2 linked regions of the Homo sapiens genome follow. The protein of the gene in region 1 interacts with the protein of each later gene in a pairwise test. Each region holds a gene or a part of one and is shown in the gene's direction. Other genes may lie near its edges. The genes, in order: TFEC and DCK.

What was found.
Region 2: the proteins of TFEC (region 1) and DCK interact in a two-hybrid assay, tested with the Homo sapiens proteins (one large-scale study listed by BioGRID and IntAct).

Annotation. Positions count from the first base shown.
Region 1 is NC_000007.14:116,024,125-116,027,949, reverse strand, and holds part of TFEC (transcription factor EC), read left to right. Parts: intron 1-2,163; exon of another isoform or gene 2,164-2,333; intron 2,334-3,825. UniProt on the Homo sapiens protein: Transcriptional regulator that acts as a repressor or an activator. Acts as a transcriptional repressor on minimal promoter containing element F (that includes an E-box sequence). Binds to element F in an E-box sequence-specific manner.
Region 2 is NC_000004.12:71,027,707-71,031,414, forward strand, and holds the end of DCK (deoxycytidine kinase), read left to right. Parts: intron 1-1,645; coding exon 1,646-1,672; 3' UTR 1,673-3,208; downstream 3,209-3,708. UniProt on the Homo sapiens protein: Phosphorylates the deoxyribonucleosides deoxycytidine, deoxyguanosine and deoxyadenosine. Has broad substrate specificity, and does not display selectivity based on the chirality of the substrate.

The DNA of each region.
Region 1 (3,825 bases):
GTTTCTGTTTCTCTTTTCTCTTTTCAGGTTTGAAAGAATAGGTGAGAATTTGAAAATCGATCTAAAAAAAGGAATTGAAAGGAGAGTCTAGGACGTAGAGGTGGAGTTTTAATAAGGATTCTCATGCCTCCTAATGTTCATTCCTAAGAGTTACCATGGAAGAGTATTTTCAAATTGTCTCTCTTCTTGAAACATGCTTTCTCAGTTTGCCACTGAGCCAGAGACTTCTTTTATACCTCCCTTTATTCCCTTCTTTATTCTTTCTTGCACAAACATGTTTCCAATGCTCAGCTTCCTTAGATGTATTTCCACCCAAGTAAGAATGTGAGCCTGCACATTTAAAAAATTTTTTTGAGACAGGGTCTCACTCTGTCACCCAGGCTTCAGTGTAGTGGCTTGATCAGGACCCACTGCAGCCTCGACCTCCCGGGCTCAAAAGAGCCTCCCGCCTCAACCCCCCAGAGTAGCTGGTACTACAGGCATGCACCATAATATCCAGCTAATTTCTTTTTATTTTTTTGTATTTTTTTGTAGAGATGGGGGGTCTCGCCATGTTGCCCAGGCTGGTCTCAAACCCCTGGACTCAAGTGGTTGCCTCAGCCTCTCAAAATGCTGGGATTACAGGCATGAGCAACCACACCCTGCCAAGCCTAGACTTCCTATCTGTTCAATCAAATATTTGGCTATATCTTGTTTTCCACTTGCAGCACTCATTCTATGCGGCATCTTTCCTCACGCTCCCAAAATCTAGACCAGTACCTACCGTATTATTGACAATCTGTCTATAGACAGGTATTTATCCCTGCCAATGTCTGCAGAGAACTTCTCAGGGGCTAATATGTTAACACTCTGTTCCCTTTGACCCTGTGTAGACTCAAATGGATTTGAACCTACTGAACTATCTGAGGTCTGCAATAGAAAGTTTGTCAGCAACATTTTCACCCCCAGCCTTTAAATTCTGGTAAAATTCTAGGCTTCTTCTTAATTAACATTTGGCTAAGAGGCATCTGATATTTTAGTAATACTCTCTAGTGTTTCTCCCCACTTAGCCAATCACTTTTCCTCTTCTACAGCTTATGATTGTCCTTCACATGTGCAAGGCAATTTTTATGTGATGGATGATCTGCTCTTTTCATCAGAATTGCACCTACTGTTAAAGATTTTTCTGTAGACATATTCAACCTTCTTTACTTTGTCATTGCTTTCAAATGTTAAAACATCTATTGCTTTTGTTGCAAACAACCATTTTTCTCTATTAACCCTTCTAATAGTGTTTGAAAAGCTCTGAGCATATCCACTCTTACAGTAGGAATAAGCCAGTGGATGAATCTGCCCAGTGACATGACTGATGACACCATTTTCTGGAGAAGGAAGAGAATATGTGATTTTACCTCGTTCAGTAATTTAATTAATATCTATGTAAGGTTAGTTAAGATGGAGGTGTACAAGTAGAGGAGGAGTGTACCTGGTGCGGTACTAGGTTCTGAGGATGCTAAGATGGATAAGGTATGCTACCTGCCAGTGAGCAGTTCAGGCATTTCAACAATTAATTACAGAGACAAATGTTACAATGAAAGTATATATGAATTATCTGCCAATCTGGAAAGGGTTCAAAGAGAAGATGGGTGAAGCATATCTTTAAAATGAATTAGCTATTCTTTAGGCAGGCGAAGGCATTGGGCCAAAAGGTCCAGTGGATCGAAAGACTAGCATGTGCAGAGTTGTGAAAAGCATGGCATATTCAGGGGTCTTTGATTAGAAGTGGAACCATTGTGTGAAATAACATGAAGTGGGGCTGAAGAGTTAAGGTGGGGGCAGACCATGAACAGCTATGCTTTTAAGAGTTGTTGGGTTTACCCAGAGAAGGAGCTTGATTTGATTATGTTTTAGCATATTTTGATTATGTTTAGTTTTATGTTCTCCAGCTCTGGCCATTTGGAAGACACATTAGAGGGTGAAAGACTGGAGTTATTAGTTTTAAATTTTTGTTGATAGAGTGTTTCTGTATCCGATTTAAGAGAGCAAAAATGACTGTATGTGGTGACTATGGGTAATACCTTCAAAATAGTTGTACCTTTGGCAAGAAGAGAGAGGCTGAAAAGATGGTAGAATGTACTTCATGAGAAAATTGAAGGTGATGTACTACTACATTTTTTACTGCAGCAATTCTCTCTTAAACTGAACATGGATTAGCAAACCAGTGGACTGAGCAAATATTTACAAGTGATCCAGTGATTTCTTTATGGTTGCTTGGTTTGATAGAACACACTGTGAAATGGGAAGTCAGAAGTTCAGCATTTTTAGCTTGCTACCAACTTGACATGTGACTATGAGTAAGTCTGTCTGTCTGTGTGTGTGTATTTCCTGAAGATTTCACATTGAATTAATATCTAGTGTGGAGAGTGAAAGGCTGGGGCTGGGCCTGAGGGTGAAGGTTGAAGTGTCTGGTGGTGCTTAAATCTAGGTCTCTTGTACCTGAAGAGCAGCTCTGAATTTGCTCCTGAGAAATCAAACTTGGGTTGGATTTAGGAGCTCTAAGATTGGAAATCTAGTTCAGAGTGCAAAGGAAGGACCTCTCTCCTTTTTCCTTTGAGGCCCTTCATCCCACATTTCTGAAAGATTTTCAGAGTACAGAACATAACAATGGGCCAATGTCTCATACATCTGGTCTTGTTTTCCTTAATATTCTCTCCTATTCAAACAGCCTCAGGGAAGCCTGCCTTAGGACAGAGCTTTTTAGAACAAAATGAAATAGAGGAAAAAGCAGCTCCTTGCATAATTTGAGAAGTAACTGTTAATTTGCCTTTTCTTCACAGGACATCTCTAGTGTTCCATATTTTCTCAAAATGTATTGCCAATTCATTTGCATCTCCATTTGTTTTTATATGAAACACTGGTTATACCGAGCTGTCTCTAAATTCACTTGGATTCAGGCCTAATGGACCACACTTAGTGAGATATATGACAGCTGATGAACAGTTGCTTAAGGGGTGTTTGTCTAAAGATGAAACAAACAAAACCATAGCAGCAACAACAACAACAACAAAAGAGCAAGCAAAGATATTCTGGAATATGATAGGAGATGGAAAAAATGTATAAAATAAATGGATAAGCTAAAACAAAATAGCAAGCAAAGATATTCTGGAATATGATAGGAGATGGAAATAATGTATAAAATAAATGGATAAGCTAAAACATGAAGTACTCTTCTTAACAGGGGGATAAAAGTGAGACCCTGAATGCTGAATATTCTTGCTTGAGTAGCAGTCATTTTAGAAGAGTTGTATTGAGTATCAAAACAGTATATTTTATGAAATATTCTCCTCTTCTTTGAAACAGGTGGTAATAGGAAACATTGATTGGGCTCTCCTTATGTACTAACGGCTTTACATGTATCATCTAATTTTTGTCTGACAAGACTCTTGGGGCAAGTAATGTTGTCTCCAGTGTTCAGAAAAGAAAACTGAGATTTGTGAAGGATAGGTAAATTTCCCAAGGTGAAAGCTGAACAGTGAGCAATGATTGGCCAAAGACTTAGATCTAGGTCTGGATGCTGTTTAGGCCCAGATGGATTATACAGTCTTTTCTAGGACCCTTTTAAATTTAAACTTTGTCTTTGTTGTTCTCTTTCATTCATTTTGAACAACCTCGCCTCTCCATAGGAGAGAAAGGGAAACAGTTCAAGGGAGAAGGGTAGAAGAAAATCAGAAATCACGGTTTTGCTAAAAATGGTTTCTAGGCTTACACATGGATAATGAGGCCTTTGACTGTATTAGATTTGCAAAAATAGTAGTTGTAGAGGTAACATGGGACCAGAAAAGATGG
Region 2 (3,708 bases), on another chromosome or scaffold:
TCCCATGGTATGAACTAAAGCTTATCTGGAAAATTCCAATGACCTCTTCATACTACTAATGATGTTAAAAATATAGGATAAATTCACTTACAATACTATTAAATGAAAAGTCAGCATTAAGTATTAACAGCCAACCATCAATTTAACTGACTTTGTAAATCACTTTTTAATTTTATCTAACACTTCTTTGTTTTGACTAAGAATCATTTCACATTATTATATTTACTTTTATTAATAATGCTAGCAGTTGACTTTCTTATTAAGGTATTTTTACAAGGCAATAATTTTTGTTTCTTGAGAATTATTGAGTAGCCTAGAATATGTAGAGAACAAGCATATTCTTACATTATGGTCAGTAGGCTAGGTTCATTGACTCCTTACATGATTTTCTGCACACACTGACATTGCAAAGTATGTGATTCACATATGTGCTTCAGAAACATGACAAATCTACTACATGTTTGATTTTCAAAGTTGCTTGAACTATTGTGCTTATTAATGTTATCAGTGTTAAAGCTGCATATGTCAGTGGTCTATGATATTTAAATGAAGAGATTATAAAATTGGTGTTACAGCTATTTTAGAACTATATCTATCTTAGATTGATAGATGCAGTGGCTCACACCTGTAATCCCAGCACTTTGGGAGGCTGAGGTGGGAAGACTGCTTGAGCCCAGGAGTTCCTGACCAGCTTGGGCAACATAGTGAGACCTCATCTCTATAAAAAACAAACAAAAACTAGCCAGACATGATGGTGTGCACCTAGCCAGGAGTTCAAGGCTGCAGTGAGCTTTGATTGCACCACTGTACTCAGCCTGGGTGACAGAGCAATAAATAACTCCTAAAATGACCTTTTAGGTCATTCATCTTTTACTACTGAAGTATTTAACAATATTTCTTTTTTTTCTCGAGACAGTCTTGCTCCGTCGCCCAGGCTGGAGTGCAATGGCACAATCTTGGCTCACTGCCATCTCCACCTCCCAGGTTCAACCAGTTCTGCCTCAGCCTCCTAAGTAGGTGGGATTACAAGTGCACGCCTCCATGCCTAGCTAATTTTTTTTTTTTTTTGAGACGGAGTTTTGCTCTTGTTGCCCAGGCTGGAGTGCGATGGCGCGATCTCAGCTCACCACAACCTCTGCCTCCCAGGTTCAAGCGATTCTTCTGCCTTGGCCTCCCTAGTAGCTGGGATTACAGGCATGTGCCACTATGCCCGGCTAATTTTGTATTTTTAGTAGAGAAGGGGTTTCTCCATGTTGGTCAGGCAGGTCTCGAACTCCTGACCGCAGGTGATCTGCCCGCCTCGGCCTCCCAAAGTGCTGGGATTATAGGCATGAGCCACTGCGCCTGGCCTATTTTTGTGTTTTTAGTAGAGATGGGGGGTTTCACCATGTTGGCCAGGCTGGTCTGAAACTCCTGACCTTAAGTGATCCACCCATCTCGGCCTCCCAAAATGCTAGAATTACAGGCATGAGCCGCTGCGCCCGGCCTTAACAATATTTCTTTGGAAAGTAAATGCAATGGCATTGTGGTAGTTACTTATACAGCTGGGGTCTTCAACTATTATATACTTTTAAATGAAGATGAATATTAGATACCTCAAATTAGTCAAGGAATTATACTGATTTTTTTTTCTTCCTTTCCTCAGGTCAAAGAGTTTTTGAGTACTTTGTGATCTTGCTGAAGACTACAGGCAGCCAAATGGTTCCAGATACTTCAGCTTTGTGTATCTTCGTAACTTCATATTAATATAAGTTTCTTTAGAAAACCCAAGTTTTTAATCGTTTTTGTTTTAAGGAAAAAAGATTTTTAAAATGAATCTTATGCAAAACTTTTTGACCAGTTTCTTTTCTTTTGTTTTTTTTTTAAAAAAGACATTTAAAGACAAAGACATTATTTCTCATAGCAGGAAATGTAGAGGTAGATGGTTCCAGTATCAGCATAGTGACTAAACTACATTATAAAAGATCCAGCTTCCTTCTGTCATTCCCCTCTTTTGTCTTCCTCAGCAGGTTGGCTTTTTTCCCTGGTGCCTCTCACTTCGTTGGTGACCAGTTTCTTAAACTGAAAGCTTTAATGTTACATAGTAAATGGTAGTGTGTCCTGTGTAAATTAGTGTACCTATTAAAAGTTGCAAAGTGGAATTAAAGGAATCCCTAGAATAAGGATTCTGAAGTTTTATTTTAAATTATTATCTTCTTAACAGTTTAGTCCCACCTCTTACTTCCTGCCTCAGTCTGCTTTCTCTACTGTCTGGATTAATTAGGCAGCCTGCTATAAAGTTAAAGTCACACATTTCTATTTTGCAAACACTGTGATTACTCTTTGCTTTGTAGTTTGCTTTGCTTTGTAGGGTTCTGCTTTTAAGTTTTTCTCTTTTTCAGACAAATTACTGATAAAAATGATATTGCTCTATATGTAATATATCCTGAAAGCATTATTTTTTGTTGAATAGGAAATAAAATTAATGAAGACAGAGGCTAGAAAGCATCCATTAATTAATGAGACACACTTAACTACTTATCTCTAAACCATCTATGTGAATATTTGTAAAAATAATGAATGGACTCATCTTAGTTCTGTATATAAATATATTTTCTTTCTAGTTTGTTTAGTTAAGGTGTGCAGTGTTTTTCCTGTGTATTAAACCTTTCCATTTTACGTTTTAGAAAATTTTATGTATTTTAAAATAAGGGGAAGAGTCATTTTCACTTTTAAACTACTATTTTTCTTTCCAAGTCATTTTTGTTTTTGGTTTCTTATTCAAAGATGATAATTTAGTGGATTAACCAGTCCAGACGCACTGATCTTTGCAAAGGAGACTTAATTTCAAATCTGTAATTACCATACATAAACTGTCTCATTATACGTATGCATTTTTTTAGTTTGTTTTTGTTTGGTATAAATTAATTTGTTAATTAAATATTTCTTAAGTATAAACCTTATGAACTACAGTGGAGCTACACTCATTGAAATGTAATTTCAGTTCTAAAAAGATGTAATAATCATTTTAGAATTAAAATTTATTCTACTTTTAAATAAATTATGAATATTAAAGGTGAAAATTGTATAAATTACTTTGATTCCATTTTAAGTGGAGACATATTTCAGTGATTTTTAGTAACCTTTAAAAATGTATAATGACTTTTAAAATTTGTAGAATTGAAAAGACGCTAATAAAAATTTATTATTTATTTGTCATGACTCAAAAGTTGTCTCAGTGTGGTGGTCATAATAGAATTGAGCCTAATGGTGGTCTGGATTATCTCTTGGATCTATTACCTATATCATGTCTTCCATTAGAATTTATTTATTGCTCTTTATAGTTTGCTCTCCTAGAAAGGTAATTAATAATACAAGACTTATTTTTCTCATCCAGAATTTTCTCTTCTGCTATGCCTAAAACTTGAAACTTATACCGAGCCACCTAGAACTTAAGTCTGTCATATGTTAAAGAACAGAGTTGTAAAATGTTTCTAAAATAGAGATATAGATGTTATTGCCTTTGAAAAATGCTAGATACATTGCAACATTAAGTCTGGTAAATAATAGCCTTCTTCATTTGACTAACTTACCTCTTCTTTTAATTTTTTTTTTTTTTTTGTTTTGAGAGAGGGTCTTGTTCTGTTGCCTAGGCCGGAGTACAGTGGCGCAGTTATAGTTTACTGTAGTCTTAAACTCCTGGGCTCAAGCAATACTGCCTCAGCCACT